Linked DNA regions of Homo sapiens. The protein of the gene in region 1 interacts with the protein of each later gene in a biochemical or structural test. Each region holds a gene or a part of one and is shown in the gene's direction. Other genes may lie near its edges.

The links.
Region 2: the proteins of VCAM1 (region 1) and ITGAD form a complex in vitro, tested with the Homo sapiens proteins (one study listed by BioGRID).

What each region holds. Positions count from the first base shown.
Region 1 is NC_000001.11:100,726,687-100,742,437, forward strand, and holds the end of VCAM1 (vascular cell adhesion protein 1 isoform a precursor), read left to right. Parts: intron 1-2,420; coding exon 2,421-2,696; intron 2,697-4,511; coding exon 4,512-4,832; intron 4,833-5,731; coding exon 5,732-5,998; intron 5,999-7,815; coding exon 7,816-8,082; intron 8,083-11,436; coding exon 11,437-11,597; 3' UTR 11,598-12,359; downstream 12,360-15,751. UniProt on the Homo sapiens protein: Cell adhesion glycoprotein predominantly expressed on the surface of endothelial cells that plays an important role in immune surveillance and inflammation.
Region 2 is NC_000016.10:31,384,011-31,400,742, forward strand, and holds the start of ITGAD (integrin alpha-D isoform 2 precursor), read left to right. Parts: upstream 1-9,324; 5' UTR 9,325-9,350; coding exon 9,351-9,381; intron 9,382-10,225; coding exon 10,226-10,331; intron 10,332-13,348; coding exon 13,349-13,452; intron 13,453-13,585; coding exon 13,586-13,656; intron 13,657-13,784; coding exon 13,785-13,899; intron 13,900-16,732.

The sequences.
Region 1 (15,751 bases):
TTGTCCAAGAATCCAAGAATTGTACTTGGTACTGGGGGTACAGATATGAAAAAGATATGACAACTGCCCTAGGGGAGCATACAAACTAGGAAGGAAGGACAGGCATATAAATAGGTAACGCAAATATTCCTTAGTAAGAGCCAAAATAATATATCTTTTTAAATGTGTCTTTCCACTAAACTGTAAATTCCTGCTCCGGGCACAATGGCTCAAGCCTATAATCCCAGCACTTTGGGAGGCTTAGGTGGAAGGATTGCTTGAGGCCAGGAGTACAAGACCAGCCTCGGCAATATAGTGAGACCTCCTGTTTCTATTTAATTTTTAAAAAATCTGTAAACTCCTTAAAATCAGGAATTCTGTGTGTGTGTGTGTGTGTGTGTGTGTGTGTGTGTGAATGTTTGGATTCTTAGCACAGTACCTAACACATAATAAATGTTCAGTAAATATTTGCTGAATTAATGAATAGATTATAAACATGGGCAGCATAGTCTTTTGTTTGTTTTAGGAAATGAGATCTTGCTATGTTGCCCACACTGAAGTCAAACTCCTAGGCTCAAGTGATCCTCCCACCCTAGCTGCCTGAGTAGCTGGGATTATAGGCACGTGCCACTACACCCAGCTCAACACAAATTTTTAAAATGTGAAAACATGGTATTTAAACTTGGATGATTAAAATAAAAATCAAACTCACCCTAAGTGGATTATCTCGGTTGGATGTTAGGTTAGCATTCTCAAGTGACCAGGAAAGATATTATACTAATAAAAGTGTGTAAAGCTAATCATTCACCCTGGAATAATGTCACTCCATAATAAACTGTATCCTATTTAAATGTACAAAGGACATGTATTTTGGGGCTGGGGAGAGTTGTTTTGCACTTTGCATCACATGGGATACTACTGGCCTAAAGTACTGAAAGTACTTTCAGAGAAACCTTCAGCTACCTAAAAGAGTTACTCCTCCAATGGTTCCAAGTTCACATGGCAATACATGTGGCCACTGTAAAGAATGACTTGAGAAATGTTCACAGACAGGCAGTCGATCTGTTTTTTAAAGTTCCTCATTCTCACACTAGCATATAAAAAATTCAGAAGCTCTGGTTGTTTTTGTGAATGAGCTCTCTTTCAAAATCTAATAGCATATCAGTTTATTGAGGAGAATCTTCTTCAGAAAATACTAAGATGTCATAATTAGACAAACCTATTGAGAAAAATAACTTATGGCATAGATGAGAACCATGCAAAATATAATATGTTTGGATTATTTATATATTGAGATTTCTTTCTTTTACCTTAAGCCTGTAATTTACAAGTAAGATTTCAGTGATTTTTATGGGGGGGTCTTATCTGTTGCTTTAAAAGTTGCCCAAACACTCCCAGTTTCTTCAGGGAAACAGAGCCAAGATGTGGTGTTCCCTTTCTCCCTAAATAGCAGTCATCCAAAAGAAGCCCATGCACCCAGCCGGGATAGCGCTGATGGCCAAAGAGCATTCCTGGATATTTGAGTCTTAGGAGTTTGCCCTCACATCTCGGCTTTCAGACCCTGAATTAATTGTAAAGTATTTTTATATTGCATCAGGCAAATTTTGGAGGTGACTTATGTATCATTTTAATGCTTAGATTTTGACTTTGATTTCAGGATGATGCTATGTGACTTTCAGTGGTATAACTGTATTATTGGAACAGAAGCTCTAAATGCTTGTCCACTGTGGGCATTATATCTAATTAGAAGACATTTTTTGTAGCTTTTTCCAGTACCTCTTTTAGACCATTTTATCACCATATGAGGATGACTTGATTTAGTTGTTGTAGCAACTGAAAAGCTGGGATCTTGAATCAGACCCACCTGGCATCAAGTCCTAATTTTGCTACTTGCAAACTGGGCAAAGTTATTTAGCATTTCTGAGCCTAAATTTCCTCAAGAAGAAAAAGGAGGGGGAAAAGGAGGAAGAGAAAGAGTAGAAGCAGAAAGAGAAGGCAAAGAAGAAAGAATAGTACTAGTGTACAAAATTGTTGTGAGGATTAAATGAGAATATATATATATATATATATATAGTAATTTAGATAGTGCTTGACACACAAGAACCACTTAAATTATTTGAGTGATTGTCCACTCTTACAGTGATTTGATAAACTACATTTGAGCAGATACTCTATTATTGCTGTGAAGAGATAGCAACCTCTCTTGACAAATTTTTATCTATTCAATTTGTTAAATGAATGAATCAACAAACTATCGTGGTTTCATTCTTAAAAGATGTGGGCTCATTTCTGATGGTCCCAAGGTGGAAAAGAGTAATTTCTTCTTGGCATGGATATTAGCTGAAAGGAGATCAGGAAAAATAAAGATCATATGTCAGAATGTGATGAAAAAAGAAAAGAATCTTATGTTCTTTTCATCTTGTTTTCCACCTGTGTCCCAGAGAAACCATTTACTGTTGAGATCTCCCCTGGACCCCGGATTGCTGCTCAGATTGGAGACTCAGTCATGTTGACATGTAGTGTCATGGGCTGTGAATCCCCATCTTTCTCCTGGAGAACCCAGATAGACAGCCCTCTGAGCGGGAAGGTGAGGAGTGAGGGGACCAATTCCACGCTGACCCTGAGCCCTGTGAGTTTTGAGAACGAACACTCTTATCTGTGCACAGTGACTTGTGGACATAAGAAACTGGAAAAGGGAATCCAGGTGGAGCTCTACTGTAAGTGGTTTTCAGAATTGTTTACTGTTTTTTTTTTTCAGTTCTATTGGAAGAAAAAGAATGCAAGTCTGTGAAGTGCAATGAAATCCTTATGTTTAGAAAAGGAATTTAGCCTTGTGAATTTTGTTCCTAAATCTGAATCAGAATGGTTTGATGCAATATAATTAGCTTAAATCTTAAATATATATTACATATGTACACAGCACCCACAATCCTTGGTTTATGCCTTGTCAATACTCTCTCATCATGCACTTGAACACACTCCATGCTGGAGGTGAGTGCATTGGGGTCAGTGCCCATTCAGAGGACTGGGTGGAGGTGACTACTGTTCAGCTACTCCAGTTGGGAATGAGTAGTTTTAAACTGTTTTAAGGCACTGTTTTAAAGGCACATTTGATGAGCTGTCTGCAGGATGGGAAAAAAATAAGGGAATAGGAAGCAGAAGGAAGCCAAAATTAAAGATAAGAAGTTAGATTGGGGATGGGGATGGTCAGTGTCAGTGGCTCAGGTGAAAAGCAGAATCAGGAAGCAGCGCTAGATCTTAATGTTGATTTATGCCACCTACATATACTACACTTTCTCTCACTCTTCTTTTGTCTTAATAAACATTCTTTGCAACCTCAAATCTCTATGAACTTGACATTGCTGGAGTTCCTCAGTCCATATTGAATGAAGAACAAAATATGCAAAGTGACCATAAAGTTATTTTTTTTTGAGGGGGTCACTCTGCCTTGTTTTATTCAGTAGAACTCAAGAGAACATATCGTAGAGATTTTCTACCAGAAACCCTGCCCAAACTTGTGTTACCCTTCAGGATTTTGTTCAGAATGAGTTAGAGTATGCCTGTAAAGGGATTTGGGTCTCTCCAAAGAAAGATAAATTTTATTTGCATTATCATATTACCCAGAGTCCATGATCTGCTGAGATAGGCACATTCCCAGCAGAAATGAGAACCAGCAGTGGGGTCTTATTGCAACATAGAAATATTTGAGCATGTATCACTTTAACAACATTTTGGTTAAGGAAAAAAATGTTTAAGCATTATTCTTGCCCTTGATAGCTATCTTAGTCTCATTTTACTGATTTGTACTGTATTATAAAGAATACAGTTAAGGCAGTTCTTGATTACAAGTATTATCTGAGAAATATTTAAAACTTGCTGCCTAAATTTGGTCATTAAAATTTAAACTAAGTTGAGAACTTCCTTGTTTGTCTTATTTGATACTGAGAGACTGCACAGCTCTGTAAAACCAAAGCTGGGCTCTGAGGTCAGAGAAATATGGATTTGCAGCCCATCTCAGTGACTTACTAGGTATAATGTGTGAAGAAAGTCTCTTAGCCTCTATATGTTTCAGTATTCCTGGCTGTAAAATAAGTAATACTCATTTTACACAGCTGCTTTGAAGACTGAGATAATGAATATTAGGGGACTAGTTTACAATAAGTATTCAACATAACATGGCAAATTTTAAAATGTGAAATATATACTTACTAAATAAGATGGTGGAAACTGATGTATACTTAGAAAAGGTCAAGCCATGGCACACAGCAAGATTGCATATTAAGAAGAAAAGAAATAAGTGAAAATTTATTACTCAATGACTGGATATACTAAGTAGTTTTTGTTTCTAACATTATTCATATATAATATCATAAATATGTCATTTATAAATACTGTCATTACTTATATATTGACAGTCATTCTATCCCAGGTGACTTAAAGCTGTCATTTTTAGGCCTTTACATTTAATAAAGCTTAGCTCAATTTTTCCTTGAATATCAAGAATAAAAATCGTTTTTGCTTGCGATTTGCAGCATTCCCTAGAGATCCAGAAATCGAGATGAGTGGTGGCCTCGTGAATGGGAGCTCTGTCACTGTAAGCTGCAAGGTTCCTAGCGTGTACCCCCTTGACCGGCTGGAGATTGAATTACTTAAGGGGGAGACTATTCTGGAGAATATAGAGTTTTTGGAGGATACGGATATGAAATCTCTAGAGAACAAAAGTTTGGAAATGACCTTCATCCCTACCATTGAAGATACTGGAAAAGCTCTTGTTTGTCAGGCTAAGTTACATATTGATGACATGGAATTCGAACCCAAACAAAGGCAGAGTACGCAAACACTTTATGTCAATGGTAAGTACATATGTGAGGTATCTACAGTTTAATACCTGTCTCTTTATCGTGTTTGCCAGGCAATAGTTAACATAAGGTTAATCGTTAAAACCTCTGTGGAGAAAAAACGTTACTGAAAAGAAATTTCAAAATAATGATGATTGTAACAAATCACCCTCCCTAAACTTAAAATAGTAACTATTTACTGGCTTATGATGCTTTGAGTAGGCAATTTAGGAAGGGACCAGCTAGGCAGTTATTCTGTTCAATATGGTATTAGCTGAGCTCACTCGTGCATTTTCAGTAAGGTTAGCAGGGCTGGCTGGTCTCAGATGACTTCACCCACATGTCTGGAGCCATATCTTGGATGACTTGGCCTCTCTTTCTTTATGTGGTGTCACCCTGAGGAACAGTAGCCTAGATTTACTCTCCAGAGCTCAGTGTTTCAAGAAGGTGTAAATGAAAGCAGCCTCTTCAAGGCCTGGGTTTGGAAGTCCTACAGTGTTACTTCTTCTTCCACATTCAATTGGTCAAAGTGAGTCATGAGGCCAGCCTAGAGATTCAAGGGGTGGAAAAATAGACCACATCTTTTCACAGAAGGAGATTCAAATAATTCACAGTCATGTTGACTCTACCATAAATGGCAGTACACACTATCATTGACCCTCGTCATTCTTTGGTTGCAAGGAAGTGTATACTGAACTTACTTCCATTAGAAAACACCATGACGTGTCCATGTTCTACTCTATCATTTGGTATCAGCTAAAGTAAATGAGGACCAAAACCTCTTGTGGTGAATTATCAAGGTTTACAAACTCTTTGAGTCTGCTGAATCCATAGCCCAGTTTTGCAACATTATTAAAACTCTTTGGAACTCAGGGCATAATAGGTCAAGCTAACAAGCGTCTCTGCCTTTTCAGTTGCCCCCAGAGATACAACCGTCTTGGTCAGCCCTTCCTCCATCCTGGAGGAAGGCAGTTCTGTGAATATGACATGCTTGAGCCAGGGCTTTCCTGCTCCGAAAATCCTGTGGAGCAGGCAGCTCCCTAACGGGGAGCTACAGCCTCTTTCTGAGAATGCAACTCTCACCTTAATTTCTACAAAAATGGAAGATTCTGGGGTTTATTTATGTGAAGGAATTAACCAGGCTGGAAGAAGCAGAAAGGAAGTGGAATTAATTATCCAAGGTGAGCAGAGTGTGAGTAATGAGTTATCCTTGCTAGTAATGTTTTTGGTTATGTTACTGATTATGAGTAAAGTCTTTGAAAACAAAATTTTTACTACAAAAGTGTGATGAGGGTTTTGAAGAGTTTATGATGTTTCCAATGTATGGAGAAATCTCCTGAAATTGTCTTTTCTCATGAATTGTTACAAGTTTCTTATCCTGAGATTCTTTTAAACTCAAGTGAAATGCAAGCCTTCAGGACCTGTGTCAGAAGTTCCAGTTACACTTATGAGGCAATGGTTATGGTATTGAAATAAGAATAGGAAGAGGAATATCTGCATTTGGGATTATGTAGGATTAAAGCTACCATATCTGGCTGAATTGAACTCTGAGTGGCAATCTCACAAGATGGCCAGTAGTATTTGCTTAGAAGCCTAAGCTGGCACTTAAGTCTTTTGCAAATTCTGAGATTATGAGTAGCCATGACTCCGTCCTTTGGTTCATCAGCCTGAGAGCATGGAAGCACTAAAGTAGATTAAGTCAACAGATCTAGGCCCCTTCTCTTTAGGATGGAGACCCAAGATTGAGAACAAGACAATTATTAGTTCGCAGGTTGAAGCCATACGGAGTTATGAGCAAAATCATCAGGTGATCAATGTGGATTTCCTCTATCCCATCCCTTTTGGGTATCAGGGTTCTTTTCTTTGCCAGGGTTGTCATTTTGTCTATTACCCCTTGGCATTATTCCCACTAAGATATTAGTGACTTTCTTGTTATCTCAACTCAATAAGATTTGTATTTTAGAAGAAGAATATTGGAAAGACAATACACATCCTTAAAAAACAGACAAACAAACAAAAAAACCTTTTGGATGGTTGTCATGACCTTGGATGGGGAAAGAATTTCAAATCAACTTACAAAATAGAAGACCTTAATAGGGATTAAAAATTGGTGATATGGTACCTGCCTCCAGTGGTTGTTGCATTAATAGAGATGTTATATGTCAAGTACTTAGCTCAGTGCTTGGAACTTAATAAATGGCAGTAGTATTGTTAAGGATAGTGAAAAAGCCACATCTGTACAGCTTAACTTCTTGATTGAAGAATCCAACTCAAAACTCAGAAACCTGTAAAGGCCTTTGTACTTCAAGGAAATTTTTTCAAAACAGTATTACAAAAAATTAAGTTTCTATTTCACATCTGAATTCTATAGCTCTTTATCAAACACTGTATTTGTCAATTTTCACACTGCTATAAAGATACTACTTGAGATTGGTAATTTATAAAAGAGGTTTAATACAGTTCCACATGGCTGGGAAGACCTCACAAAATGTGCAATCATGGCAGAGGAGAAAGGGAAGCAAGGCACACCTTAACATGGCGGCAGGCAAGAGAGAGTGAGGAAGTGCCACACTTTAAAACCAAAAGTTCTCGTAAAAACTCATTAACTATCATGAGAACAGCATGGGGGAAACAGCCCCCATGATCCAGTCACCTCTCACCAGGTTCCTCCCTCAAAACGTGAGGATTACAATTCAAGTTGAGACCTGGATGGGGACACAGAGCCAAACCATATCAAACACCTATTCTTTGTGCTAGGCTGGGTAAATAATTATATTAAGGAACATGAAAGAAGCATAAGCCATGTACTCTCTTAGTTAAAACATGATCATTTCCAACAATCCAGCAATGCTTGACTTCTTTACTTGCCCTTCTTAACATTTAATGCAAACGCTAAGCACAAATAGCTCCAGGGAAGCTATTGTTGATGTCGCTAAATTAATATGGAGTTGGTTTATATTTCACTCAATCAGGGATGTCTTTTAAATTCTCTTTACAGTTACTCCAAAAGACATAAAACTTACAGCTTTTCCTTCTGAGAGTGTCAAAGAAGGAGACACTGTCATCATCTCTTGTACATGTGGAAATGTTCCAGAAACATGGATAATCCTGAAGAAAAAAGCGGAGACAGGAGACACAGTACTAAAATCTATAGATGGCGCCTATACCATCCGAAAGGCCCAGTTGAAGGATGCGGGAGTATATGAATGTGAATCTAAAAACAAAGTTGGCTCACAATTAAGAAGTTTAACACTTGATGTTCAAGGTGAGTTTGTTTTGAGTTTTTGTTTTCTTGGTAATAGTTCAGAGGTTCCAAGGATTACTAAGAGTTTCCAATATTTGATGAATGAGTTGGCAAAATGGAGCTGTGGTTTATTTCTTAAGGATTCTTGGAAAAATCAAGCACAGCTGCTTTATCCTATAAAGTTTAGCCAGGAAGTTGACATTAATCATTCGTGACTGAGGAATTCCTGCTTGCTTTTTTCAGTTTACAATTTATCATTTGTCTCTGAGGTCTTGCAGTTGCTAAATGTTTAACCATATTTTCAAACCTTTTCCCGGGAGGTTATAAGGAAACTAAAGAAGTAGGATTGGCACATTGAAAAAGAAGGGTTCTATCCAGACCCTCTTCCTTTCTACCAGAAGGAAACACTATTTTCTGAACATGGAGTAACTGCAATTTTCTGGATTGACTCTTTTCAGGATAATAATTGGGAATAGTAAACTTGATCCTGAACAACATAAAAAAATCTCTCGACTATCGAAAAGCCTCATTAAAATTCCAACCCACTTGCCATCCTACTCTATTCTGGTGGACAGAGAAAGAGAGGAGCAGTATCCTCATTGGAGAAACTTCAGGGGCCCCTTAATCTCCTAAGCCCTCTTGTGAATGCACAGTAGGTAGGATCTGCTGATCTTATTGGTGTAAACAAAATACATCAGCCTTGGCTGATCAGTATCACACCCCTTGCACACCAATTAGCTGCTATTGTGTAATGGAGGCCATACTTGGCGGTGGAGTGCAAACAGGACTGCAAACAAATGCCAAGTCTTAAGAGGTCTGGCACTTGGCTATTGGAGTGAGCAATCACTTGTCAATGCAGAGAAAATTTGAATCTACATCAGAAACAGGTAAAATTTTTGTTCGTCTACCCAAATTTCTCAAAATGGCAAGCCTTACCGTATGTATGTTTTCCATCTTCACAGTACCTCCTCAAAACATGAGAATAGCTGTATAGCTATACATCCATCTAGAAATGTTAAAGAAGGGGAAAACATCACGATTATATATGAAACTTCTAGTCATCCACCTGCAGTGATTATCCTGAAAAGAATTGATCTAGCCAATGAAGTTACTATGTGTTCAAAGAAGGGAACATTTACTTTGTATCATGTCACTCAAAATGATTCAGGGGTATATGTAATCAGTGCTTCCAATGAGGTTGGGGATGATTCTGGACAGATTGCAATCTCAGTTATGAGTAGGTTGAATTTACTCATCCCTATTTTCTTTAATCCTTAATGCCTCTGGGCCACCTTTAATTAAGCCTAGCCCTGGGAAATTGGTCCCCTAACATTTCTGTAATTCTTTTGTTAATTAATTGTGACCTTTTAAAGACACATCAAACCTGCTTCTCTACTTTTTGACTCTGTCTCACACACATTGCTTTATTTTCTAATTGCTTTATCAAATTAGCCACTTACACAGTTGCTACTTTTTACTCATTATTTAAATGAACAATCAAAGAATATTAAGCGCTCAGCTAGAAACTCATGCCCCCAAACTGAATATAGTTTAAACTAGCTAAATTTTAATGAAGACCAAAAAATGGATATTTTTCTGGGTATTTTGAACTAGATTTCTTTTGCATTTGGCTGGATTTTTTATTTGTTTCATTTTGTCTTAGCTTGAACGTATTCCATTAATAGAAATCATCAGGATTTTTAAAAGATATTCAGTGTTTATATGACAAATAGAAAATTGTATTTGAAGGTTGCCCTGGCAACTACCTTGGCAGCAAATTTGTATTTTTCTGCCAATGCCTGTGGGGAAGACTGAAAGGCAAAAGATAATGTATATTACATTGAAAAGAAAGAAAGAAAAGAAATAGAAATAGTATTTCTGTTTCTCAGCATGTCATCAATATTGATGCCTATCCATAATCATGTTGATGGACATCCCATTCAAATATTACCTTTATACTTTGACTAGCTCAGCTCTAGCAAGGGAAAGTCAAAAAGTGAGACAATTATCATTATGCTTAGGGTGAACTGTTTTTCTTCAATAATTTGAAAAAGTGACTTCACATTATCTGATGCTCGTGATTCTTTTTACTTGGTTGACCTCCAGTGATTAGAAAGCTCTGGAAAGAATGTAGTAATCACCAAAGTCAGATCTCTAGTTTCTGCCAGGACTGAGACAATGTATATGCCACTTAGTGAAACTTAATACTTGTGTGGTCACATGATGCTGTGCAAAGTATAAACAGGAGTGAGTCTTCAGTAAATGACACACTATCTTCTTCAGCTGCTCTTATAAAGTTAAGATGTTAAGCAGTATAGCAGCTGTCAGATGATTTTTTAGCAGATTAGAAAGAATACTAATTTTAAAGTTTTTGTATGCTGTTACCTACTGTACTCCATTTACAACTAAGTGGCAAAAGCAAAATGTAGAGAGAAAAAAATGTTATTAGTGTTTAAAAAATATTGTTTTTGGTGCCAACTAGGCCAAGCAGTGAGTCAGGTGCTGGCTGTTCAGTGATGGACTAAAAAGAAAATAGATATACATGTCTTGATGTAATTTTTAGCTTAGGGGAGGAAACTAAACTTAATAAGTAATTACATGGATAAATGTTTAATTAAAAGCTGTAATAAGGGTTTTGAAGGGAAAACGAGTGGGTTTTGAAAATATATTGAGGTTCTTAATTTAGAATGAGGGAGATATAGATTAGAGAATGCCTCTAAGAAACATTTAAGCTGTAACATAACACTGTCCAAAGAACTCTAGTTTATCAAAAGATGATATAAATGCTGAAGAGGAAAAATGTATTAATATGCCCTATTTCTGACATAAAAAACATAGAAACTTCTGTATATCTCTGAGAAAGCCATTGGCAAGATTTTTTTTTTCTCTTACGATCTTATTTGTGGCATTTAGCTATAATGGTCACACTCTGAATATTATAAGGATTTTCTTAGAGAACTGGTTAGTCATTTCAATTCATGGTCATCAGAGTCCCAGTTCTTTAGTAGATATTTTTATTTCCCCAAGCAAGTGCCTCTCTCCAATTCCTGTTCTTGCCTCTCTCCAATTCCTGTTCTTGTTAAAAACTTGTACCCTCCCTTCCATTTTACAACTGAACCTGAATCTATTTGAATCCAAGTTTGTGGAAGCCAACAACTATCATCTTTAGATCCATCATGACCATAGCAACCACCAACTGATTATTTGGATAATTCAGACAAACATGCATCTTGGGTCCTGATGGTCCTTATCACTGCTTTGATTCCCTTCTCTTTGGAGAACTAGTTGTACTGTTATAATAAACATGTAACTGTTGTTATTAAATGCTATCTTTTTGTACTAGACATTAATTGCATCCATTTTGTTATTTTCCAGGAAGAGAAAACAACAAAGACTATTTTTCTCCTGAGCTTCTCGTGCTCTATTTTGCATCCTCCTTAATAATACCTGCCATTGGAATGATAATTTACTTTGCAAGAAAAGCCAACATGAAGGGGTCATATAGTCTTGTAGAAGCACAGAAGTCAAAAGTGTAGCTAATGCTTGATATGTTCAACTGGAGACACTATTTATCTGTGCAAATCCTTGATACTGCTCATCATTCCTTGAGAAAAACAATGAGCTGAGAGGCAGACTTCCCTGAATGTATTGAACTTGGAAAGAAATGCCCATCTATGTCCCTTGCTGTGAGCAAGAAGTCAAAGTAAAACTTGCTGCCTGAAGAACAGTAACTGCCATCAAGATGAGAGAACTGGAGGAGTTCCTTGATCTGTATATACAATAACATAATTTGTACATATGTAAAATAAAATTATGCCATAGCAAGATTGCTTAAAATAGCAACACTCTATATTTAGATTGTTAAAATAACTAGTGTTGCTTGGACTATTATAATTTAATGCATGTTAGGAAAATTTCACATTAATATTTGCTGACAGCTGACCTTTGTCATCTTTCTTCTATTTTATTCCCTTTCACAAAATTTTATTCCTATATAGTTTATTGACAATAATTTCAGGTTTTGTAAAGATGCCGGGTTTTATATTTTTATAGACAAATAATAAGCAAAGGGAGCACTGGGTTGACTTTCAGGTACTAAATACCTCAACCTATGGTATAATGGTTGACTGGGTTTCTCTGTATAGTACTGGCATGGTACGGAGATGTTTCACGAAGTTTGTTCATCAGACTCCTGTGCAACTTTCCCAATGTGGCCTAAAAATGCAACTTCTTTTTATTTTCTTTTGTAAATGTTTAGGTTTTTTTGTATAGTAAAGTGATAATTTCTGGAATTAGAATGGTTGTATGTTTATTTATTATAAACTGCCTCCTTTAGTCACATTGTAGCTCTTTCTGAAGTGCTAAGTTATAAGAGTAAAATATTCAAACTATGGAAATAATACGGATACTCAAAATGTGACCCTTAGACTACTATTATTAAAATTACTGTAGGAACTTGATAAAAATGTAGATTTCTTGGTGCCAGACTAAGATATTGAATAGAAGTGTCTAGTTTTTGGTCCTTGGAATCTGCAATTTTTTAATTTAGAAAAATATACATAAAAAGATTTAATGCAGATGAACATGCACATGTTAATGGGCAACAAATGAACACCTGTGTACAGAACATTAAGAGCAAGAGATAGTAAAACTATTCTTCAGAGCCTTTTATATACCACATAGTGATGGCAGCACTCTTCCCTCACTGAGCAGTAACCCATAAATATTGTGAATCATACATTGATCATTTCCATGCTTCCTTTGGAGTTTTTTTTTTTTTTTTTTTTTTTGAGACGGAGTCTCGCTCTGTCGCCCAGGCTGGAGTGCAGTGGCGCCACCTCGCATCTCGGCTGGCTGCAAGCTCCGCCTCCTGGGTTCACGCCATTCTCCTGCCTCAGTCTCCCTAGTAGCTGGGACTACAGGCGCCCGCCACCACGCCTGGCTAATTTTTTTGTATTTTTAGTAGAGACGGGGTTTCACTGTGTTAGCCAGGATGGCCTCGATCTCCTGACCTCGTGATCCGCCCGCCTCGGCCTCCCAAAGTGCTGGGATTACAGGTGTGAGCCACCGCGCCTCGCCCCTTTGGAGGTTTTATACCTGTCTATGTATCCCTAAGTAGTACATTACTTAGTTTTGCCAGATTTTGCATTTTATATAAATACAATCCAATTATACATTTGCCTTGTAACTATTCTTTCACTCAAAGTTATGTTTTTCATAATACATTTGTGTAGTTATAGGTCATTCATTTTTCTCCACTTGGAATGGATTTTTTTTAACTTTTAAGTTAAGGGGTACAAGTTTAAGTTTGTTACATGGGTAAACTTGTGTCATGGGGGTCTGTGTTGTACAGATTATTTTATTACCCAAGTATTAACCCTAGTACCCATTAGCTGATTTTCTTGATCCTCTCCCTCTTCCCACCCTCCTTCCTCCAAAAGGCTCCAGTGTGTGTGTTCCCCTGTATGTGTCCATGTGTTCTCATCATTTAGCTCCCACTCATGAGTGAGAACATGTGGCATTTGGTTTTCTGTGTTAGTTTGCTAAGGATAATGGCCTCCAGCTTCATCCATATCTCTGCAAAGAACATGATCTCATTCTTTTTTATGGCTGTATAGTTGGAATGGATTTTTTTATACAACGCAGGGTGGGTATGAAACAATTGTCCCTATACCATTTATTGAAAAGCTAATTATATATATGAATATATATATTTATATTCATAAATTAATATATATTTCTTTTTATAAATGTCTCTTGATTATTCTAGTTTTTGAACTTCCATATAAATTTTAAAGTCATTTTGTTAAGATATAGAACAAAAAATTAGGATTTTTAACTCAACTTATATTGAATATATAGATCACTTTGAATAGAACTGATATTTTTAAAGCATTGAGTCTTCTAATCCATGAACATAGTTATTATTTTTAGACTATCTTTGATGTCTTACAGAAATGTTTTTTTTAATTTCATAAACGCCTTATTCCTTTTAAAAATTTATTTCTATGGAGTTTGGATTTTTATACTATTATTCACAGTATCTTTAAAATTATATTTATTTGGGGTATAACTTTCATACAATAAAATTCATTAACTACCACCACAATCAAGAAATGCAACTTTTTTTTTATCACTTTAAGATTTCCATCAGGCTCCACTGCAGTGAATCTCCCCACCCACCACCTCCTCTGGCCCTTGGCAAAAATCAATCTGTTTTCTGTCACTATACTCTTGCCTATTCTAGAATTTTATATAAATGAGATTGTACAGTATATAGTCTTTTATGTCTGTCTTCCTTCACTTAGCTTGACTCTCCTGAGGTTTATTTATGTCATTATGTATATCAACGGTTTGTTATTTTTTATTGTTAGAGCATACCACTGAATGCTTATGGTAAAGCTTATTTATCTAGTCATCAGTAGACAATTGGGTTGTTTATGATTTTTGGCTATTGTTAATAAGTCTGGTATAAATATTTAAATGCAGATATTTATGTGGATATGTGAATATATATATATATATATATATATATATATATGGAGAGAGGGAGAGAAAGAAAGAGAGAGACCTAGGATTTTGGTCCCAGTTACTCTACATCTACATAAACACTTGGCATTTGTATTTTAAATTTTTGCCATTCTAGTGTTGGGTCATGGTATCTTACTGTAGTTTTAATTTCCCAATAACTAGATTGATCATCTTTTCATATATTTATCATTTTTATATATCTTATTTGGGGAAACATCTATTAAAACCCATCACCCAAATTTTTATCAGGTTGTTTGTCTTCTTATTGAATTCTAAGAGTTCTCTTATATATTCTGAATAGAAATTCTTTATGGAATATACATTTAGCAAATGTTTTCTTTCAGTAATTGCAGTGGCTTGCGTTTTCATTTTTTTTTTTAACAGTGGCTTTGCCTATCCCAAGGCAACAAAGATTTTCTCATTCATTTTTTTCTAGAGGCATCATACTTTTAGTTTTACATTTATGTCTATGACCCAATCCAAATTAATTTTGTGTATGATGTGAGGCCATGGTGAAAGTCATTTTTGCATATGTGTATTCAACCATTATAGCACATTTTGTTGAAAGGACTTTTTCTCTCATGAATTACCTTGACATTTTTGCAAAGAATCGATTGGCCATATTTATGTGGGGCTTTTTTTTTTTTTTTTTGAGACAGAGTCTTGCGCTGTCACCAGGCTGGAGTGCAGTGGCATGATCTGGAGTGCAGTGGCATGATCTTGGCTCACTGCAACCTCTGCCTCCCGGGTTCAAGCAATTCTCCTGCCTCAGCCTCCTGAGTAGCTGGGACTACAGGCAGTGTGTGTGGGGCTATTTCTGAACTTTCTTTTGTGTTCCATAGATTGATATATCTCTTCATACACAATATGACACTATCATGACTACTGTAGCATTATATTATAAGCCTTGAAATCAGATAGTGTGAGATTTCCAATTTTAAACTTCTTCAAAAATTTTTGGCTAGATTAGATCCTTTGCCTTTCCATATGAATTTTAGAATCTGCTTGTCAACTTCTGTAAAAAATCCTGCAAGTATTTTTGATTAGGATTCATTGAATCTATACGTTAATTTGGGAAGAATTATCATCTTAAAAATATTGAGTCTTCCAACACACATATGTATAATTTCATCTTCTTAGGTCTTCTTTAGTTTTTTTT
Region 2 (16,732 bases), on another chromosome or scaffold:
CCAGCCTGGGCAACAGAGAAAGATCATGTCTCAGAAAAAAAAAAAAAAATTGACCCTAGAGTGGTGTTTCTCAAAATGTGTTCCACGAACCACTGGTGGTCAATGATGGTCTTCTAAGTGGAAGGTTTTAGAGAAAAAGAGCAAGAAACCCATACATCTCAAACATTTGAAACTAGTGATTTGCACAGAAATAGTGTTGTGGCCTTAATAATTGTGTGGCACACGGACTCCAGGGACTACAGTGGGTTCTTGTCTAAATTCAGGCAACAAGTTGTTATTTTCTATTTTATTTTATTATTATTATTTTTTGAGATAGTCTCACTTTGTCTCCCGGGCTGGAGTGTAGTGGCACGATCTCGGCTCAACGCAACCTCTGTCTCCTGGGTTCAAGTGATGCCTCTGCCTCAGCCTCCCAAGTAGCTGGGAGTACAGGGGCGTACCACCATGCCCATTTTTATTTATTTATTTTTGAGACAGAGTCTCGCTCTGTCACCCAGGCTGGAGTGCAGTGGCATGATCTTGGCTCACTGCAACCTCCGCCTCCCAGGTTCAAGTTCAAGCGATTCTCCTGCCTCAGCCTCTGGAGTAGCTGGGATTACAGGCAGGCACCACCATTTCCAGCTAATTTTTGTATTTTTAGTATAGATGGGGTTTCACCATGTTGACTAGGCTGGTCTCGAACTCCTGACCTCATGATCCGCCCTCCTCGGCCTCCGAAAGTGCTGGGATTAGAGGTATGAGCCACTGTACTTGGCCGACAAGGTGTTATTTTCTGATATTCTTCCTTTGTGTGTTATTGTGTACATTTATTACATTTGCATTTTCAGGGTTGGCTATTGTGTTGCATTAGATCCCCGAATCACAAAATGGATCAATGGCTCAAAAGCATGGAAGTTGTGATTAAAAACTAATCTAATTGCTACAATTTACAATAATGTCATCAAAGTCAATATTGACTTTTAAATATTGAGCCCAGTGCACGTATAGTATAGACATGCATACCGGAATAAGTGATTGTGAGCCAAAACCCGAAAATATCTAGAAGGTATTATACTCCCTGACAGGTAGGTTGTATTGGTTCTGACATGTATTTGTCCCTAGTGTGCTGCCCATTCTGAAACTTTATCAAACAGTCGCATGAACCTCTGAAAGCTTTTGTGTTATTTTCTTATTTATTTATTTATTGAGATGGAGTCTTGCTCTGTCGCCCAGGCTGGAGTGCAGTGGCATCATCTTGGCTCACTGCAACCTTTGCCTCCTGGGTTCAAGTGATTCTCCTGCCTCAGCCTCTTGAGTAGCTGGGATTACAGGCGCGCACCACCACGCCCAGCTAATTTTTGTATTTTTAGTATAGACGGGGGTTTCACCATGTTGGTCAGGCTGGTCTCGAACCCCTGACCTCATGATCTGCCTGCCTCAGGTAAAGCAATAGAGATTTCTTAGAACAACTGCTACATGTAGCTTTCCTATTCAAAAGTGATTAGTGTTGTCACCGAATACAGAGGAGACAGCAAAACCACAGTGACATAAATCAAAGGTGCTTTTTAAAGTAGCAAAAGTAGGTACAAGTCACATAATTTCCAAGAAGCTTGTAGAAATGGCAGTAGAGTTCATACCTGTATTGAAAGGTTGCTTTTGGCTGCAAATAATAGAAAAAAACAAAAGCATGTAAGAGCAGACAGAAGACCTTTACTCTGCAAGAGGTTCAGGTGCAGGTTAGTGTTTAATGCAGAGTCTCAGCATTGACAGATTCTTTCTGATCTTCCAATTGATCGTCCTTGCGGGGGCGGTTTAGTTCTTTCCCACTGACTAGGATTGGGTCAAATTCCATCCCCTTGGTTGCATGCAGTGCTGAGAAGGTGAGCATGTGCTTTTCACAGGCTTAATAAAAAGAGGTAGCTCCAGCCAGGTGCAGTGACTCATGCCTATAATCTCAGCACTTTGGGAGGCAGAGGTGGGTAGGTCACCTGAGGTCAGGAGATTGAGACCAGCCTGACCAACATGGCAAAACTCTGTCTCTACCGAAAATACAAAAATTAGCTGGGCATGGTGGCAGGTGCCTGTAATCCCAGCTACTTGGGAGGCTGAGGCAGGAGAATCGCTTGAACCTGAGAGGTGGAAGTTACAGTGAGCTGAGGTCATGCCACTGCACTCCAGCCTGGGGGACAGAGTAGAACTCTGTCTCAACAAAAAAAAAAAAAAAAAGAGAAAAAAAAAGGAGGGTAGCTCCACCAGCCAGGAAGGTGGCAGCGCTGGTGGCTGTTGGATAGGCTACCTACAGTGTCTGGCAAATACTATGCTTGAAGACTATGCTGTGAGCAAGATTCCTTTGTGAAGGAACAGCTTGGACATTGTGTATGTCAGAGGTATACAGCAGAATAGCAGTGACTAACGCTTGTGTGGGAGAGCAAGCATGTCACCTCATACTTGGAATAAGTCACTGCCATACAAAGTCTGAATCAGCTTTCATCTTTGTGCAACACATGTATGTGGGAGCTTTTCAGCTGCTGAAACCTCTAGTGACAGAAAAGGAGGTTTTGTTGTTCATTTGTAATTAATGTTAATCCTATGAGTGGTGGGAGAGATAGTGAGGTAGGAGATCAGCAGGACCTGTTTTCTGGTCACAACCCAGCTAATCAGAGCATGATCTGGTCAAGATGGGATGCACTAAAAAAACAGCCCAAACCAGCAGATGGCCAGGAAAGCAAACTCTCATTACCCTCGCCACTTATTAGCATAAAGACACTCCCACCGGTGCCATGACAGTTTACAAATGCCATGGAAACACACCATAGCAACGGTCAGCAAGTTACCTCATATGGTTCTGGAAACTCCCCACACCTTTTCCAGATAGTTCTGAATAACCCACCCCTTAATTTGCATGTAATTAAAAGTCGGTATAAGTACAGTTAGCCAGCAGCCCACTGGCTGCTACTGTGGGCTCACTGCCTATGGGTTGTCCTGCTCTGCAAGGAACAGCTACCTTGCTGCCACTGCTGCTTCAATAAACCTGCTTTCTTCCACCACAGGCTCGCTCTTCAGTTCTTTCCTGAGCAAAGTTAAGAACCCTCCCGGGCTAAGCCCCAATTTTGGAGCTTGCCTGCCCTGCATCAGTAGAATGGGCTAACTACTTATGGTGCACTCAGGCTAAAGAGGCTGATGCTTGCAGGGCAGTATTCACAGAGCACACGGTAGTTCACGGGATGCCTCTCACCCTTGACTCAGTGCTTAAGAAAGGAGGGAAAATGGTGAACATGATCAAATCATGGCCATTGCCTATTCATCTTTTCAGTGTTGTATGGAGGAATAGGCAAGTAGGAGATTGCTTTTCACATTAATGTCAAAGAGAAAGATAGTTACTTGGAACTTAAAAAAATTAATTGTGATAAAATATACATAACATAAAATTTACCATCTTAACCATTTTTAAGTATAGCCAATCTCAAGAGCTCTTTCTATCTTGTAAAACTGAAACCCTATACCCATTAAACAACTCCCAATTCTCCCCTTTCCCTAACTCCTGGCAACCACAATTCTTTCTGTCTCTATGAATTTGACTGCTTTGGCATGTCATAGAAATAGACTCATACAGCATTTGTCTTTTTGCGACTGGCATATTTTGCTTAGCATAATGTCCTCAAGGTTCACCCATGTGGTAGCATGTGTCAGAATTCCTCTCCTTTTGAAGGCTGAATAATATTCCATTGTGTGTATATACCACGTTTTGTTTATCCATTTGCCCATCAATGGGCATTTGGGTTGCTTTTTTTGCCTCTCATGAATGATGAATATGGGCGCACAAATATCTCTTCAAGACCATGCTTTCAATTCTCTTGGGTATACACCCAGAAGTGGAATTGCTGAATCATATGGTAATTTTTTTTTTTTTTTGAGACAGAATCTTGCTCTGTTGCCCAGGCTGGAGTGCAGTGGCACAATCAGAGCTCACTGCAGCCTTGGTCTTCTGGGCTCAAGCGATCCTCTTGCTTCAGCCTTCCGAGCTTCTGGGACTAAAGGTGTGTGCCATCATGCCTGGCTAATGTTTTAAAAACGTTGCCAGGCATGGTGGCTCGTGCTTGTAATCCTAGCACTTTGGGAAGCTGAGGCAGGTGGATCCCCTGAGGTCAGGAGTTTGAGACCAGCCTTGCCAACATGGTGAAATCCCGCCTGTACTAAAAATACAAAAATTAGCTGGGTGTGGTGGCATGTGCCTGTAGTTCCAGCTACAGGCAGGAGAATTGCTGGAACCTGGGTGGCAGAGGCTGCAGTGAGCCGAGATTGCACCACTGCACTCCAGCCTGAGTGACAGAGTGAGACTCTGTCTCAAAAAAAAAAAAAATTTTAGAGATGGTGTCTCACTGTGTTGCCCAGGCTGGTCTTGAACTCCTGCCCTAAAGTGATCCTCCTGCTTCCGCCTCCCAAAGTGCTGGGATTACAGGCATTAGCCACCATGCCTGGCCTAGCTAAATTGTCTTTAATGTCGCATGTCTGCAAAAAACACATCTATAAAGCTAGAAAAGTTGAGCATCCAACTTTTTATGATTTAACTCTCATGACCTGGCAATTTTTCTAGCAAGGAGCCTGGGCTGGTGGTTTTAGGAGAACTGAGTGAAAAAAAGAAATACATTAACTAGATTGGATGCAAAGTGCCTGCTGGTCATGGGTGTTTTCTGCTGGCCCCTGTTCATCTGTGCCTGTTAGCCCACCCATGGGTGAGTGGGGCAAAGTGGCCAAACTGATTCTTAAGAGAGGCATACATGCAGAATCCAAGTTAGTCATGATTTCGTTTCTAGTCTGAGTGAATGTGTGTCCAGAATATTTTATAAACTTTATCAGCTCAGAGGGGAAAACCTGTCTCCATACTACGTGGTTTATACAAAGCTGTCAGGAATTCAGCATGATGAAGAAATGCACAAAACAAGTGTGAACAGATAAGTAAAAGGATCTACTGAAAATCTTCAGGGTAGTATATTGTGTGACAGGACCAAGAATTTGAAGTCAACATCTGTATTTGTGCCCTCTGGACAAAGGTATTATCCCTGATGATATAAAAATTAATTTTGGGCTGGGTGTGGTGGCTCATGCCTGTAATCCCAGCACTTTGGGAGGCTGAGGAGGGTGAATCGACTGACGTCAGGAGTTGGAGGCCAGCCTGTATCGACTAATAATACAAAAAAATTAGCTGGACATGGTGGCGTGCACCTGTAATCCCAGCTACTCAGGAGGCTGAGGTGGGAGAATTGCTTGAACTCGGGAGGCCGAGGTTGCAGTGAGTCGCACCACTGCACTCTAGCCTGGGCGACAGAGTGAGACTCCGTCTCAAAAAAAACAAAATTAATTTCGAGGCCAGGTGCAGTGGCTCCAGGTGCGGTGGTTCATACCTGTAATTCCAGTGCTTTAGGAGGCCAGAGGATTGCTTGAACCCAAGAGTTCGAGATCAACCTGGGCAACATAGTGAGACTCCATCTGTAGAAAACAAACAAACAAACAAACAACAACAACAAAAAAACCAGAGGTGGGAGGATCACTTGAGCCCAGGAGTCCGAGGCTGCAGTGAGCTATGGTCACGCCACTGCCCTCTAGCTTGGGCAACAGTGCCAGACTCTGTCTCTTAACAACAACAACAACAAAAATTAATTCTACTTTAACTGTCAGTTTCATGATATCCTTCTATTAAGAAAAACCTTTTCTATCTGATGAACTATTGGCTAGGTTTTCTTTCTCTCTGCTTTTGACTAATGCATTTAATTACTTTCATTTGCAAACTCTATCCTTCTCATCAACTTTGTATTTTAGATGTGTCTATTGACAGCCTGGCTTCCCTCAGCGATCATTATGATGATCAAAGTAGATGAATAGGTAAAATTCAATGCAAATATTCCAGGGCATCTAATCCATACCCCAAATGGAAAAGGGGAGAATTGGAAGCCAGCAATTTGAACACATTACTATGGATGTATTTTTCTCATGCGGGGGAAAAAGTGATTTGGAGAGAGAGAATTATGAATGCATGTGAAGAATAAAGCCAAATTTCCTGGGAGGAGGGGAAGACCAGGAGAAACAAAACCAAATCCTGGCTGTGGCCTCTAAGGCATGGGGACCTGGAGTTATGCTCTCCAGGCAGACACAGCTCATTCTGGAGAAAGGCTGCAAAAATATTCTCCTTCACATTGATTTGAAAACAATTATTAAATTCTTGTTTTCTTATTTATCTAAGTGTAACTTTTTAAAACTTACTGAGAGAAGACGGGCACGGTGGCTCACTGCTGTAATCCAGTACTTTGGGAAGTCAAGGCAGGTGGATCACCTATGGTCAGGAGTTCGAGACCAGCCTGGCCAATATGGCAAAACCCCGTCTCTACTAAAAATACAAAAATTAGTCAGGTGTGGTGGTGTGTGCCTGTAATCCCAGCTACTCGGGAGGCTCAGACAGGAGAATCACTTGAACCTGGGAGGCAGAGGTTGCAATGAGCTGAGATTGCACCACTGCACTCCAGCCTGGGCGACAGAGCAGGACTCCATCTCAAAATAAAAATTAATTGATTAATTAATTAAAAATTTACTGAGAGCTGGTGGTTCCTTTAAGGGTGGAGCCGCCATCAAGTCCCCAGAGGATGCCCTGAATTTGGGGGCATCACCTTCAGCTGCTGTGGACTCTGAGCCTTGGCAGCTCCAGCTCCAGGCCTGGGAGAAAGATGATTTCCTGGCAGCGTGCAGTGATTGTGAGCATTTGACTACCTTACTGCATTTTGCCCTTATCATTGCTCTCCAAACATGAGTGGAAAACAAAAAATTTTGCTGAGACAAGCGATAATACGAGTTAGGGAAAGTTGGAGAATTTTATAGTTGCTGATATCAGCAAATCGTGAGTTTCAAGCACTACTTACAGAAGGAAGTCCAAAATTAAAGGGGATATAGAAATGTGTAAAAGATGAGGTGTGGTGAAGATGGAGAAAATGAAGAGCTCTTTAAATTTCTGAATTATGAAGAATCACCAACAAATTATTTTGTGGTTCCAAATACAGGGAGAAGTTCACAGATCCACAGAACTGATGACAGGGTGCGGCCAGCCACAAACCTTTCAGCACAAGAGGGAGAAGGCTGCCGCTCCACTTTGCCTGGGCAGTCTTTGTAAGGCAGTAGATAAGTCAGCCTCGAAGTTAGCAATCACAGCCCTCGGCTCGGTTTCCTGCAAGGGCATCGTTAATGCATCACAATTAATTTCTTCTGTCCATTAAATGTCAGCTCTCAAGTAAATTGATGTAAAATTTTTGTATAGAAAACTATTTCATATTATTTGCACTTGATGTTTAATTACATTTTAAATGTTTTGTTTGTTTCATTTTGTTTTGTTTTTGAGACAGAGTCTTGCTCTGTTGCCCACGCTGGAATGCAGTGGTGTGATCTTGACTCACTGCAACCTCTGCCTCCTGGGTTTAAGCGATTCTCCTGCCTCAGCTTCCTGAGTAGCTGGGATTACAGGCGTGCACCACCATGCCTGGCTAATCTTTGTATTTTTAGTAGAGATGGGGTTTCACCATGTTGGCCAGGCTGGTCCCGAACTCCTGACCTCAAGCTATACACCTGCCTCAGCCTCCCAAAGTGCTGGAATTACAGACATAAGCCACTGTGCCCAGCCAAATGTTTTAAATAATTGTCACATATATATACAAAATAATTTATGTTATAGGTAGGGATCTTGTTATATTTTAACCTTCAAAGTATATTCCTAAGCTTTTTATTTATTTTTTATTTTTTATTTATTGAGACAGTCTTGCTCTGTCGCCCAGGCTGGAGTGCAGTGGCGCAATCTTGACTCACTGCAAACTCTACCTCCTGGGTTCAAGCGATTCTCCTGCCTCAGCCTCCTGAGTAGCTGGGATTACAGGTGCGCACCACCATGCCCAGCTAATTTTTGTATTTTTAGTAGAGACGGGGTTTCACCATATTGGCCAGAGCTGGTCTCAAACTCCTGACCTCAGGTGATCCATCCACCTCAGCCTCTCAAAGTGCTGGGATTATAGGTGTGAGCCACTGCGCCTGGCCTATTCCTAGCCTTTTATATATAGACCTTTTTCTTTTTCACATTTTAAAGGAACTTTTATGTTTAATCATGGAATATTTCAAACATACAGAAAAATCACAGAAAATAAATAACAACCACTCATTTATCTTCTCCCCAACCCCATGTAATAAATATTAAAATATTGTGTTAAATGCTAAATTTAACACATGCTAAAGGTTCCTGGCTGGATGTGGTGGCTCACGCCTGTAATCCCAGTACTTTGGGAGGAGGAGGTGGGAGGATTGCTTGAGTCCAGGAGCTCGAGACCAGCATGGGCAACATAGTGCGATCTCGTCTCTACAAAAAACAAAAAAATTAGCTGGGCATGGTGGTGTGCATCAGTAATCCCAGTGACTGGGAGGCTGAGGTGGGAGAATTGCTTGAGTCTGGGAATTTGAGGCTGCAGTGAGCCCTGATCATGCCACTGCATTCCAGCATGGGCGACATAGCAAAACTTGTCAAAAAAAAAAAAAGTTTCCTCTCTGCCCCACCATAGACAACCACTCTTCTGATTTCTATCTTCGTAGATGAATTTTGCCCATTCTCTTGTATATGAAAGGAACCAGACATTAGGCATTCTGGTGTCTGGTTTCTTTCACTTAAGATAAAATTGAGTTAACCTGTATTGTTGTACAGAACTGCAGTTTGTTCTTTGTTATTTATTGTAAAGACAGGGTCTGGCTATGTTGCCTAGGCTGGTCTCGAACTGTTGGCCTCAAGCAATCCACCTGCCAAGCTCTGGGACCACAGGCATGAGCCATGGCATCTGATCTGTAGTTTGATCTTATTTCTTGCTGAGTAGTAGCCCATGGCATGACTTTATTATTTTGGGTGTCCATTCTCCTCTGGAGGGGCTCTGCTTTTTGAAACCACACCCTGGCCTAGCTCCCCTTCTCCCTGCCTCTCTGCCGGCTCACATCCACATGCCAAGACCTCTGCAGCCATTCTGCTTCCTGTCCTTCCACTCCTGTGGGACCTCAGAGAGCTACGGGGCTCCCTGGGTACCAACTGGCTCCTGAGGCCTGGGGGAGGGTGGTCTTCTGGGAGAAGGAAGCCAGGTCCCTGCAGGTTGTGGAGGGGGACAGAATGAGGGTTTTTCCCCAGGGTGTTGTTGGCCCCTGCCCCCACTTCTGTTCCATAATTAACCACGCCCCTCCTACCCACTGTGCCCCTCTTCCTGCTGTGTGGAGGCCCTGAATCATTATTTTAACTACCCCCTGGGAGGGTGAGCACCTTCTGTGCTCTGTCCCCAACCTTCCACTTCCCCTCAACGCGCTGCTCAGGGATGACCTTCGGCACTGTGCTTCTTCTGAGTGGTAAGTGGGGCCAGGGTGCTGGGGAGAAGCTTGGAGGAGTTCTGAGGGGACTCCATCTGGGAGGGCAGGCTGGGGGCTGGTGGTCGGCTCCAACCACTCTTATGAGGAGCTGAGGCAGGGGAGTGCTTCATGTGCGAGTGGCCCGGAGTCAGTAGAGTGTGACCTGAATGAAGAGGGGCTCAGGGGCTGTGCTCAGGTGGCGACTAAGCTACCTCTCCAGCTGGCTATGTTGTCCCAGGCTTCCCTGCTCCCACTCATGGAGTCCCTGGTGTGGGTGACAGAGGTCTCCCCAGCCTCCCCCGGGAGTGGAAGGCCACAGAAGCCACCAGGGAGGGGGAAAGGTTGGACATCACCTCCCTGGGCCTGTTTCCCCCAAGTCCTGACTGCACGTAGGGAAGAGGCCCCCTGCTGAAAACTGCATCAGAGTCACATTCACGTGCCATCAAAAATCAGGCTTGGCTGGGTGCGGTGGCTCATGCTTATAATCCCAGCACTTTGGGAGGCCGAGATGGGCGTATCCCCTGAGGTCAGGAGTTTGTGACCAGCCTGGCCAACATGGTGAAACCCCATCTTTACCAAAAATATAAAAATTAGCCGGGCATGGTGGCGTGCACTTGTAATCCCAGCTACTTGGGAAGCTGAGGCAAGAGAATCGCTTGAACCCAGGAGACGGAAGTTGCAGTGAGCTGAGATCGTGCCGTTGCACTCCAGCCTCAGCAACAGAGCGAGACTCCATCTCAAAAAAAAAAAAAAAAAAAAGAAAAAAAAGAAAAAGAGGCTGGGAGGTCCTAGGGATTGGGGCTTCTTTAACTCCCAGCCTCCCCGCCCACCAAATATTCCTCAGTCCTGGCTTCTTATCATGGATTCAACCTGGATGTGGAGGAGCCTACGATCTTCCAGGAGGATGCAGGCGGCTTTGGGCAGAGCGTGGTGCAGTTCGGTGGATCTCGGTAGGCCCCACTCACCCTCCTTCCCCAACCTCCACTACATCAAGTCCTGTGGATGGGTACACGTGGGTTACCCCAGGGAGGTGTCCTGGAGGAAGGCCAGCAGGGGTGAGAAGTCTTCCCTTGGCTCCTTGGAGGCCCTGACATCAGCACCTATTATTCTCAATCCCAGGAAAGGCCACAAAACTCTAGACAAGACCCTACCTTACCTCGGGAGGGAAGCCTTGAACCTGCCTCCCAGGCAGGGCCCACTTCTTGGGGCCAGTATGGTCACACAGGGCCCACACTCATTAACTTTGGAGTTTAATGTTCTGCCCTTGACCTCTTGAAATTCCTGATTATTTTTATTTTTATTTTTACTCCAGCTCTGTTACCCAGGCTGGAGTGCAGTGGTGCAATCACAGCTTACTGCAGCCTCAAACTCTCGGGCACAAGTGATCCTCTCACCTCAGCCTCCTGAATAGCTGGGACCACAGGTGCATGCCATCATGCCTGTTTTTTGTTTTGTTTTGTTTTACTTTTTACAGAGATGGAGTCTTGCTATGTTGTCCAGACTGGCTGAACTCCTGGGCTCAAGCAATCCTCCTGCCTTGGCCTCCCAAAGTGCTGGGATTACAGGTGTGAGCCACCCTGTCTTGCCAATTCTTAAAAATTTTATCTGTGCATTTGTGTTTTGCAAGTAAAGAATGATGGCAGGGCTGGGCACCATGGCTCACGCCTATAATCCCAACGCTTTGGGAGGCTGAGGCGGGCAGATCATCTGAGGCCAGGAGTTTGAGACCAGTTTGGCCAACACAGCAAAACCCCATCTCTACTAAAAATGCAAAAAAAATTAGCCGGGCATGGTGGCAGGCATCTGTAATCCCAGCTACTTGGGAGGCTGAGGCAGGAGAATCGCTTGAACCTGGGAGGTGGAGGTTGCAGTGAGCCGAGATCGTGCCACTTTACTCCAGCCTAGGTGACAGAGTGAGACTCCGTCAAAAAAAAAAAGTCATGGGAGAAGGGAGATGCACTGGGGGTTTGGAGCCTTAGCTCAGCAGCAGCCCCACCTCCCACCGCCTCCTGAAGGGTGGTGAAGGGGTATCAGCTGCTGGCTCCCCCACCCATGTGGGAGCAATGACCGCTGCTACCTTCCGCCCCTGGCATGAGCTGGGTAAAGTCAGTTAGGGGCGCTCACTCTGGGAGTACCCCGAGGGAGTGGGACACTACATAGCAAATAAAAAACGTCAGGACAGGTTGAGGAAGAGAGCAGAAGAAAGGTAAGAGCCCCCCAACCCCAAGAGACCCCACAGTTTTATTTCAAATTGGGACCCACAAATTATGAACCTGCCCCCACTTCCAGGAGCTCACATTCTCCTGTCCCAGAGAGTTCAAGTCACAATGTGACACAGGTGTCACCAAGGTCTGGGGGGCGCAGGCAGGGAGAGAGCAGACCCAGGAGGGTTCCATGGAGGAAGTGGTGCTGGCAGTGAGCCCCAGTGGACAGGAAGGCTCAGTTGGTCACGAGGAGCTATAAGAGGTCACCGAGCTCCAACCGCGCACCCCTCTCCCTTCCTCATGTGACTGGCAGTCTGGGGGGATGGAAGCAAGCACCAGGCACCAGGCTTTTGTTTTTCTTTATTTGGAAATGTGGTCAACTGAGGTGCACAAATCTGAAAGACCCAATCTGATAAAGGATACACATGTGCGTGCCTGGGTGAGCCCCACCTAGGTCAGCTGCTCCAGTGTCAAATCCCACAGGCACAGGGCTGCCGTGGACCCCTTCTCATCACCCAACATCCCCAGAGAACCCCTGGTCAGACTTCTGTCACCATCAGTTTTTTGGGCCACATTTTAAAAAAAGAATACATTGGCTGAGTGCAGTGGCTCATGCCTATAATCCTAGAACTTTGGGAGGCTGAGGCGGGTGGATCACCTAAGGTCAAGAGTTCAAGACCAGCCTGACCAATATGGTGAAACCCTGTCTCTACTAAAAAATACAAAAATTAGCCTGGCGTGATGGCAGGTGCCTGTAATCCCAGCTAGCTGGGTGACTGAAATAGGAGATTTGCTTGAACCTGGGAGGTGGAGGTTGCAGTGAGCTGAGATCACGCCATTGCACTCCAACCTGGGTGACAGAGTGAAACTCTGTCTCAAAAAACATATGGGTTGATGGGTTACACTAAAGTTTTGCTCATCGTTTGTATCAGCAGGTTCCAAACTGCTACCTCTCTAGCCAATGCTCAGATTTTCTTCACAAAGCCTTAGGCATCCCCTGAATCATGATGCACAGGGATTGTAGCTTTCTGTAAAGGAGCGGCACCTAGAAGGAACCCTCACATGGCCATTTAATGAAGCCTTGCTTGGCGCATTAAAATACACCAGTATCTGTCTGCTTTTCTCACAGACAGGAGATTGTGGGTAGTGAGAAAACATTTCCAAAATTAAAAAACTTTCCCACTCAGGGAGTTTTGCAAATAAACCCTTGACTCTACATAACTATAGATATAGTTATGGATCCTAGTACACTGCTTTACATTGGCCAATTGAAATTGCTTATACAATATTTAAATTGGTCCAATGAATTACAGAATCAACTATTTGTTTTGAAAGCACATGTCTTCAGGAAATTGTTCCAATTAACTTGAGATGATCTTATTTCTTGGGTGGTTCAAAATAATGGCAACTCAGAAACGCAATGTGCTTACCCATGATTGGGAAATGCCATTTTGGTCTTTAAATAGGTTTTTTTTTTTTTTTTTTTTTTTTTTTTTGGTGAATGTTAAAAAGAAATTTCTAAACATAAATACACACATACGTACTTATGCACACTCAAAACCAAATAAACCCCAGCATGGCCCCTGGGCATCTGTGAGTTACACTTGGGCCCTGATTTCTGAATATTCTGCCAAGTGGCAAATGCCAGGAATTTCCCCCACAGAGTCTCGCTTCCCCATGGAGGGACACTTCCTCACCCCCAAGTGCCCGCTGCTCCCACCCCTCCTGTGGCTGCAGTGACATGGCCATGGTTGTGTCTCCAGACTCGTGGTGGGAGCACCCCTGGAGGTGGTGGCGGCCAACCAGACGGGACGGCTGTATGACTGCGCAGCTGCCACCGGCATGTGCCAGCCCATCCCGCTGCACAGTGAGTGACCACCTGGGAATTGGGCCCCTCAACCCTCCTGGACCCAACTGTGCCCCCGCTTAGCTTCCAGTCCAGACCTTCCCCGCAAATGAGTGTGTGCTGTGAGTGAGACCCCGCGTGTCTGCCCTTGCAGTCCGCCCTGAGGCCGTGAACATGTCCTTGGGCCTGACCCTGGCAGCCTCCACCAACGGCTCCCGGCTCCTGGTGAGTGAGTGTCTTGGGCCACGGGGGGGTGGGGTGGGGCGGGGGGTGTTGTTGGGGAGGAGGCTGGGGCTGGGAGTGAAGGAGGAGGGGCTGCTAGGGACTCCTGGCTCACAGGCTTCTGCCTCCAGGCCTGTGGCCCGACCCTGCACAGAGTCTGTGGGGAGAACTCATACTCAAAGGGTTCCTGCCTCCTGCTGGGCTCGCGCTGGGAGATCATCCAGACAGTCCCCGACGCCACGCCAGGTAGGTCCCTGGCAGGCCATGGTTCCCTGTGGAGCACATGCTGGCACTGAGGGTGAGCAGGCGTGAGGCCTGTGTCTGGGCCCCTGTGCCCTCCCTGGAGGGCCGAGTGTGGCTAGGAGAGAAGCCAGGAGAAGAGGGTGGCTCAGGCAGGAGCCCTGCTGCTCCAGGGTAGAAGTTCTTTGCAGGGTTTTTCTTTATATTTTTTTCTTTTTAAGACAGGGTCCCTGCCAGGCACAGTGGCTCAGGCCTGTAATTCCAGCATTTTAGGAGGCTGAGGTGGGCGGATCACCTGAGGTCAGGAGTTCGAGACCAGCCTGGCCAATGTGGTGAAACCCCTCTACTAAAAATACAAAACAAAACAAAACAAAATAGCAGGATGTGGTGGTGTGCGCCTGTAATCCCAGCCACTCGGGAGGCAGAGACAGAAGAATCGCTTGAACCCAGGAGGCGGAGGTTGCAGTGAGCTGAGATTGTGCCATTGCACTCCAGCCTGGGTGACAAGAGCAAAACTCCATCTCAAAAAAAAAAAAAAAACAAAAAACAGAGTTTCTGTCAGGCTGCATGCACCACCACACCCTGCTAATTTTTTTGAGACAGAGTCTTGCTCTGTCGCCCAGGCTGGAGTGCAGTGGTGCAATCATAGCTCACTGCAGCCTCGAACTCCTGGGCTCAAGTGATCCTCCTCCCTTAGCCTACTGAGTAGTTGGGACTGCAGGTACATGCATCACACCTGGCTAATTAAAAAAAATGTTTTTGTAGAGATGGGGGTCTTGCTATGTTACCCAGCCTGGTCTTGAACTCCTGGGCTCAAGTAATCCTCTGCCACAGCCTCTCAAAGTGTTGGGATGACAGGCATGAGTCCTTGTGCCTGGCCTGAGGGATGAAAGTTCTGATGGAGGCAGAGAGGAGCCCCACTGTGCGGGCTGTAGAGGGCACAGCATCTTCCAGTTGCCAACAGGTGCATGGCCACTTCTTGAGTTTCAGAGGAAGGACCTTAGTGTGGTAAAGAACGTGGTGAGGAAGATAAATCCATGAGGGAGGTGTTTCTTCTGGATGGTTCACTGCTGAGCTTCCAGGATTCCCCAAACTAACTTTCCTCTCGAAGAGGAGCAAATGACAGGGCTGCGGAAAATGCGATGTGCAATTTTGTCAGTGCCCATGTCTTCCACAGAGAACAGGGCCTGGGGACACCACCATGACATCTCTCTGAGGGTTGGTCTGCATCATGGTGGTTCCCAAGTTTGTTTTCCATGGGCACCAGGCTTCATTCCCTTGAAGCTTCATTCCCTCAAAGCCATTCAGTTTCCTCATTGGTAAAATAGAGCTCAATAATCAGGGGGTTATGAAGGTGAAAGGGATTGAGGTGCATAAAGCACTTGGAACCCTGCCTGGCACATAGTATGTGATAGCCCCTCTGACCCATCTTCCAGCTGGGGACTGCATGCTGGGACTGGGAGGAAGATACAGGCAAACTGTCTCATCTGCCGTGTGAGAGGGAATGCCAGGGGCCGCTCAGGGTGCTGACCGAGGGTGGGGCTTCAGACCAGAGAGGCCATGATGACAGGCATGCTGGGCCTTTAGACAAAGGTGGAGCAGCAGCAGAAACATTACCAGAGCAAATGGTGAGGGTGGAGTCTATGGAGGGGACCAAGGGAAGGGGGAAGGGACATCCAGGGTTCTTGGGGGGACCGTGCCCAGCCTGAGATGTCTGTGAAGCCAGGTTAGGGAGGTGGCACTTAAAAACAAGGGGTAAATGTCTTCTCACAGCCATCCGTGGAACTCATGAGGTGGGATGCCTGATGCAAATGGGACTGGAGCACAAAACTGGTGCAGGCAAGGGGGGTGTGGGTCCAAGTAGAAGGGACCAGGGTCCACTGAGGATCACCTGTGTGCCAAGCAGTGCTGAATACCTGGTATGAATCACCTTATTGCATCCTCACAACATCCTGGGTGGCGGGCAGGCCCATTCTCATTTTACAGATATGAAAACCAAGGTTCAGATAGATGAGTTCCATCGATAGCAAGAGGCAGAGCCCAGAGCTTGAGCCATCCTTGCCTGATTGGTGGGGTCCTTTTTCAAAAGGATAAGTCCAGGCTTCTGCTAGTGGGAGACCAGGGGATACAATAAAAAGACCAAGAAACAGAAGAGACATTGTGAGAGGATTTGCCACAGACCTGGCCTGAGAGAGGATGAGAGGGTGGTTTCTTGACGCAGCTGAAAAAACAGGCACCACTGCAAGATGTTGGCTGCCCAGATGTGGGCAAAAAACGGGGAGCTCCTGGGGGGATCTGCAGCCTGCCCCATGGATGTCAAGATTTGCTGGTGATTGAAGAAGCAGGAAGGAAGTGACCTTCTGTTTCTCCCCAGCACCCTTGAAGCACCAGTGGTTGAGCAAGTGGGGTAGGGGAGAGGAAAGAGGAAAAGGCATTTTTTTTTTCTGCAGTGGTGGGCAGGGGGCAGAAACCACAGCCCTGTGGTGTGGGCCTCACACCTTAGTGCTCTGGTGGCCTGATCTCCCAGTGCCCTGCGGGCAGCACAGGATGTGGCTGCTGGTGGAGGTACCAACTGGGCCCTGAACACAGGCCACACACCCCCCATGAGCCTGGGGACAGCATGAAAAGTCTTATTTGTTCATGTGCATATGATGTGCCCTCACGATTGCAGAGTGAACTCCACAAACTCTGAGGTCACTTGGGAATGTTCTTTTTTTTTGAGACGGAGTCTCACTCTGTCGCCCAGGCTGGAGTGCAGTGGCACAATCTTGGCTCACTGCAGCCTCCACCTCCCAGGTTCAAGTGATTCTCCTGCCTCAGCCCCCCAAATAGCTAGGAT